2 separate regions of the Homo sapiens genome follow, and region 2 is linked to region 1. A link means that fine-mapping ties the variant in region 1 to the expression of a gene that starts in the linked region. Tissue or cell type: whole blood. Region 1 holds a variant in brackets; the other region holds the start of a gene. All regions are shown on one strand. Distances are between the middles of the regions.

What was found. PIP is the estimated chance that this variant, and not a neighbour inherited with it, causes the effect.
Region 2: it holds the start of CCDC141, and the variant in region 1 is fine-mapped to the expression of CCDC141 in whole blood (TOPMed, PIP above 0.99). The same link has a PIP of 0.9 or more in blood mononuclear cells.

Annotation. Positions count from the first base shown.
Region 1 is chr2:178,830,732-178,833,496 of GRCh38, forward strand. It overlaps CCDC141 (coiled-coil domain containing 141), which reads right to left. Exons shown (of 24, transcript NM_173648.4): 24 at 1-2,765. It also overlaps the pseudogene RNU7-104P. Among named protein-coding and RNA genes, the nearest start is that of TTN, 25 kb to the left of the region's middle. The variant G/A (reference allele first, on the strand shown) is at 1,668.
Region 2 is chr2:179,048,938-179,051,702 of GRCh38, forward strand. CCDC141 (coiled-coil domain containing 141) reads right to left here and starts at 1,200. Exons shown (of 24, transcript NM_173648.4): 1 at 903-1,200. The coding sequence starts at 1,004. RefSeq lists enhancers at 697-746, 937-1,186, 1,197-1,276.

The sequences.
Region 1 (2,765 bases):
GGACCATCTACTCTGGACTTGATGGGTCAGGAGGCTTCCCAGGGGAAGTTGTGTCTCAGCAGAACTGGAACATAAGCAAGAGTTAAGTCACATGAAGATAGGGTGGTGAAGATAGTAAGAGAGTTATAGGAAGAAAGGGCTGGAGAGAAGAGCATGATATGTTAAAACCCTGAAGTTAAATGTCACTTTACTAGGGGTTGGGGGTAATAGGAGGGGATCAAACCGAGGCCAGAGAGGGGAGGCCAGGTTGTAAAGGGTCTATGAACTACTTGAGGAAATTTAAATTTGAGCAAAGCAGTTAGAAGGGTCTTGTAGTCATCTATTTTAAGTATGTGTCTTGATTATGAGTGATAGAGGTTACCATTATTGATTAATATAGCTAAAAAATTTTCTGCATCTTGTTCAAATATTTTAAATATCATAGAATATTCAGAGATTCAAATGTACAGATTCCTACAGTAAATTTCTCTTGGAATTGAGTGTGAAAAACTACCACCAAATATTTATACATCCTTTTATTGGAAAATCAAAGCTGGAAAACTCAATGATTTTGCCTTATGAAAACTTAAAAACATTTTGTTTTGCAGTTCTTCAAAGTATCAAGTATTTATAATTTGTTTAAGAGTTTAGAAGTTTTAAAACGTTTTCTGGTGAAAATCTTGAGTTTAATTTTCACCAGAAAACCTGCTAGACAAATTCTAAAAGAGCTGTAACACATGTAATTTTTAAACTTTCTTTTCATTTTAGTTTTCTTGTTGAAAATGTTTTGATATTACTAACCATTCAGGATTTTCTCTAGAAGTAAATGGTTATAAATTATGTATATACCTTAAAATAGAAACAACACTTAAATTTCCTAGGTCTTACATTTTTAACCAGTAACTGCAATTGATACTTTCATAAGAATAATTATTTGCTCAAGACAGAAATCCCAGCAAAAAGGAAAATCACACTTAACTTTTTGAAATTAAAACATAACCAGAAGAATAACTGCGTAATTATTCTTTACTGCTGTGGGAGTCAATCAATAGCCCAGATGAATAGGTAGATGGATAGGTACACAGAAAGCTATCTGTACTATATCTTGAATATCAGCATAGTACTCTTCTGATCTTTGTGCTCCCCCACCCCCACCTTTCTCTTTCTCTCTCTCTCTAAAAATGGATTTTGCATGCTTTTTTCCATCATAACCATGGATGCATATGTATCTCATTCTGCTCCCCAAAGAGTTAACATGAACAAGCATGCAATAGAGAAAGCAAACCAGGAATTCCCATGCCCTAACAACCCCAACACACAAATTCAACCATGTTGACAAAATGGGAAGGGAGATCCTGCCAAATTAATAAGAAAGAGAAAGTGGGAAGAGAGACAGTTTGTTACCGGGTCTCACCTGCCTTCTTTGTTCATGAATAGGTTTTTACTCTTTAGCTTCAACGTGGGCAACAGCAGTTAGGCAAGATTCACACATTATTTGAAATTGGACAAAAAGGATACAAGAGGCCGGCTATGGTGGCTCATACCTGTAATCCTGGCACTTTGGGAGGCTGAGGCCCAGCCTGGCCAACATGGTGAAACCTGGTTTCTACTAAAAATGTAAATATTAGGTAGGCATGCCTGTAATCCTAGCTACTCAGGAGGCTGAAGCAGGAGAATTGCTTGAACCC[G/A]GAGGTGGAGGTTGCAGTGAGCCAAGATGGCACCACTGCACTGGGCAAGAGAGCAAGACTCTTTCTCAAAAAAAAAAAAAAAAAACAAAAAAAACAAAAAAAAGATAGTTAAGAGAAATTTCCTAGAATGCTGTGTATACAAGCTTTTAATATAGTTCTATCAAAATTTAGAAGGAAACTGAGATTTAATTTTTTAATTAAATTGGATATGCAGCCCAAGAAAGTATACGCCAACTTTTTACTTGACTACACATTTCACATCTTCAGATAACATTCAGTAACTTTTTAATAACAACTTGAATACATTACATTTAAATATTTTGATTATTTGTAGACAGTCTTCCAGCAACATAATTAATTTCTTCCCTTCATCAAAAATCTGTAATGAATTATTCTTTCAACTAAAGATTTTCCTCAGCATAATAAGACTACATTTAAAATCTAAGAAGCAAATGCTTCCCTACTTCAAGCTTATTTTTAAAAGGAAGCCAAAAAATGATCTTTTCTGAATAAAGTGTTTCAGAAAGGCATAGAATACTTCAATATTATAGTAATAATTATTGTAAAAGGATAGAATTCATCTCATACCATTCTATTACGTTTCCCCCTAGAACAAACAAAATGTATCCTCCTGAGTTTAATTTCAAGTCTTTGAAAAGAATGCAGTCTTCAGAAATTAGATAGGAATTTAAGCTCTAATTCATAAAACATCACTTTCCTCCATGGAACTAGTTGAAGATTACATATTAACAGCACTCCTTTAATTTAATATTCTAAAAAAACAGCATCTAAAAAAAAAGAAATAGTGAGCAGGAGGCCGGTCTGATGACAAATTACATTAAACAATATCATTATCCTTAGCCCTCAGTGTTTTCCATTTTCCAGATGTTTAAAAGACACAAAATGAAAACTCTCAATTGCCCAAGAGGTAGATGATGAACTCATTTTCCAGACAGGAAACTGAGGCAATGAGGCTTTGCCATAAAGTATAAAAATGGTCATCAGCAGAATCAAGATTAGAAGCAGAAACACCTGGTTACACATTGCTGCTCAAAACACATCAATAGAATGTCAGGAATAACGTTGGTTCTTTCTTGC
Region 2 (2,765 bases), 220 kb after region 1:
CAGAAAAGTCATTCAATTAAACCTGGTGGGGACCTGAAAGTAACTGGTTTGTGACCATCAGCTTGTTTGCCAGCTTTCCCTTCATTAAACACTGAATTATTTAGGTGGAATATCATCTAAAGCCCAAGCCTAGTGCTTGAAAGCTTTTTTTTACAGGGCATTTCCATGGAGAATAAAATCATGGAGTTCTTCTTCAGCCTAAAGATGTGTGGTCATCTTTGCAAATGGGCAAATGGGTTGTCATAAAACATGCAGTAATTGTAAACCCTAAGTGGCTTCTACTTCCTGCTGTTAAGAGCAAATTTGACACAAAGCTTTTGTACCTTTCCTTGCATGGTCTTCGTTACTGGACAAGGATTTAGTAGTTTCTTTACCATGTCAAAACCAGTGTGGCAAAGGGCACATGTCGGAGCCCTTTACTTGGTGTTTTCTGAGTTCCATCGTGCTTAAAGCAGTGCCCTCCCCCTGTCTGTCGGGACCTGCCTCCTCCCACCTCCATCACATCCACTCTCAAAAATCACAAGCATTCCACAGGTCCATTGGACTCTTTAGTCAGGCAATCATGAACTTCCAGTTACCAATGCCTTGCTTTTAAAGACCAAATTGACAGTATATGCTAGAGGTTTTCTTTTCTTTATTTTTCTTTCTTTTCTTTTTTTTTTTTTTTTTAAATCAAGCTGCTATAGATGCTTTCTGGCTGACTGAAAGGAAAGAGAATCTCTGGTAACTGCTGAAACTTGTAGAGGTTTCTCTTAGTAGCCCATTTTAGAAAGCAGTAAGAGTGCTTGCTGCGTTGTCTTCTCTATGCTGTGTCCTGCCGATTGCATGGAATGTTCTTTAGGGTTTTCAACACACAGCTAGAAGCCCACAGCCGCACAGAAAAAAGGAAGTTGTTAGCTTACCTTTATGACAGCTATAACGATTTTGGAGTCCCCAGCCTGCACAGCAACTGAACTGACTGTCGTCGTAGAAAGCGCAACACTAGGACTTCCTTGGCTGGACATGGTACTTTAGAACCAGAGTTTATACTTTGGGCAGCCTCTGGACAGTTGTGTGTCTGCTGGTCATTTCAGAAGGCCAGGGTTACTTGGATTCATTCAGGGAAAGAGCTCAGCTCACACTGATTACTCTGCCAAAAGGAAAGAACAGGAGGTTAAAAATAGACAACCCCATTGAGTTTATCGTGAGAGAGAAAGGAGCGAACGAGAGAGAATTGCCACGCCCCTAGTATGGTGACACTAAGTGCCTGTTATTTTTGCTGTTATCTTAAATGTGGAGGACAGCTTCAAGCTCTTTCCTTATCAGCTGATGTTTGATAACAAATGGAAAAAAAAATTACATCCTGACAACCCAAATTAGTTTTGCCACCGAAACTATGCCATTGTAACCATGGACTTTGAAACAAGTAAGTCTTTGACCTGGTTATCAATCTTTTCAAGATTTTTGAAATCTCTCTGATGCAAAGAGAACTACCAAAGTGTACTTTAAAAAAGTTTTGGTATTTGTCTTGGGGTTAAGTCACAAATTGCTTAAAACACATTTTTAGATTAATCTGCTTTTCTAAAACTTACTGTTCTTTGCTAAATGAAGTTTAGATGGAATAGCCACATTTTCTCAGAGCCTCAGATTTCTTAGGAATTTTTAAAAAATATTTCAACCAGCATTTATAAATAGGTGCCTATCATTTCAGATTTTCTTTGTGACTATTCTGCTCCATTGGACAAGGTTTTCAAGTTCAGTTATTAATACCATGAGAAAGCAAAATACTTTGCTGTTACCTTTTAATTGCAGCAAGAAAATGTTTTCTGTGTGGTTAAAAGTTATTAAGACATATATTTTGCTGCAATTAAAAACAAAAACAAAAAGGAAAGTACTGTGCTTCAGGCTTTTTATTCCCTACCCCCACCTCCTGTTCAGGAAAATTATAGCCAGCTTCAAATCAGTGCCCCACATTGGTAGATTAATCCTATTGCTAGAAACTCAGCCTGTGTCACAAGTTGTCTGTGGTATTAAACAGCAGCTGTTGGATTCCCTGTCAAAGAACAGCTGAAAATAACACTAAAGTTTAGGTCAGAAGTCAGATGCAAACATATCAGAGTTACTAACTCCAAAGCTGCTGGAAGCATTGGAAATCTCTGGGACAAAGCCACAACAGAGAATATAGCAAAAAACAGTTTTAATGAATCCACTTGCTCTGTAAACCTTTTAGCCCAATTTAATAGTAGGTTCAGGTTCAGGGCCAATGTTTAGAAGACTGAGTCAGCTCCATTGCTTTGTTTTGCTAAGGTTCATGATCATATTCTTGATTCAAAGGGGAAAAGTACTTTTACACATACTTCAGTGTTCAATTATTTTTGTTTCCAAGAGCATGTCATGGCTGCTCTGCAGCTGTGTAGCCACCACCCATGTCCTCTGCGCTCAGCATCTGCCTGCTGCCCCAGTGAGATGGAAACCATACCTAGATCCTAGTCCCTATGCAACACGAACTTCACCTGACCCCATGAAGGGAACAATTGGAGCGAGCTCAGGAAAGCAGATGCCGAGCAAGCTATGATGTAGCAACTATTGCAAATGGTTTCATTTTATGGCAGGGCTGGAGAGCTTGCAAAGAGGTAACTGACCTGGAAGGTTGCAGGCAGGCTCCTTCTTTCACTTGCATCTGTGTGAAGAGACCACCAAACAGGCTTTGTGTGAGCAATAAAGCTGTTTATTTCACCTGGGTGCAGGTGGGCTGAGTCTGAGAAGAGAGTCAGCGAAAGGAGATA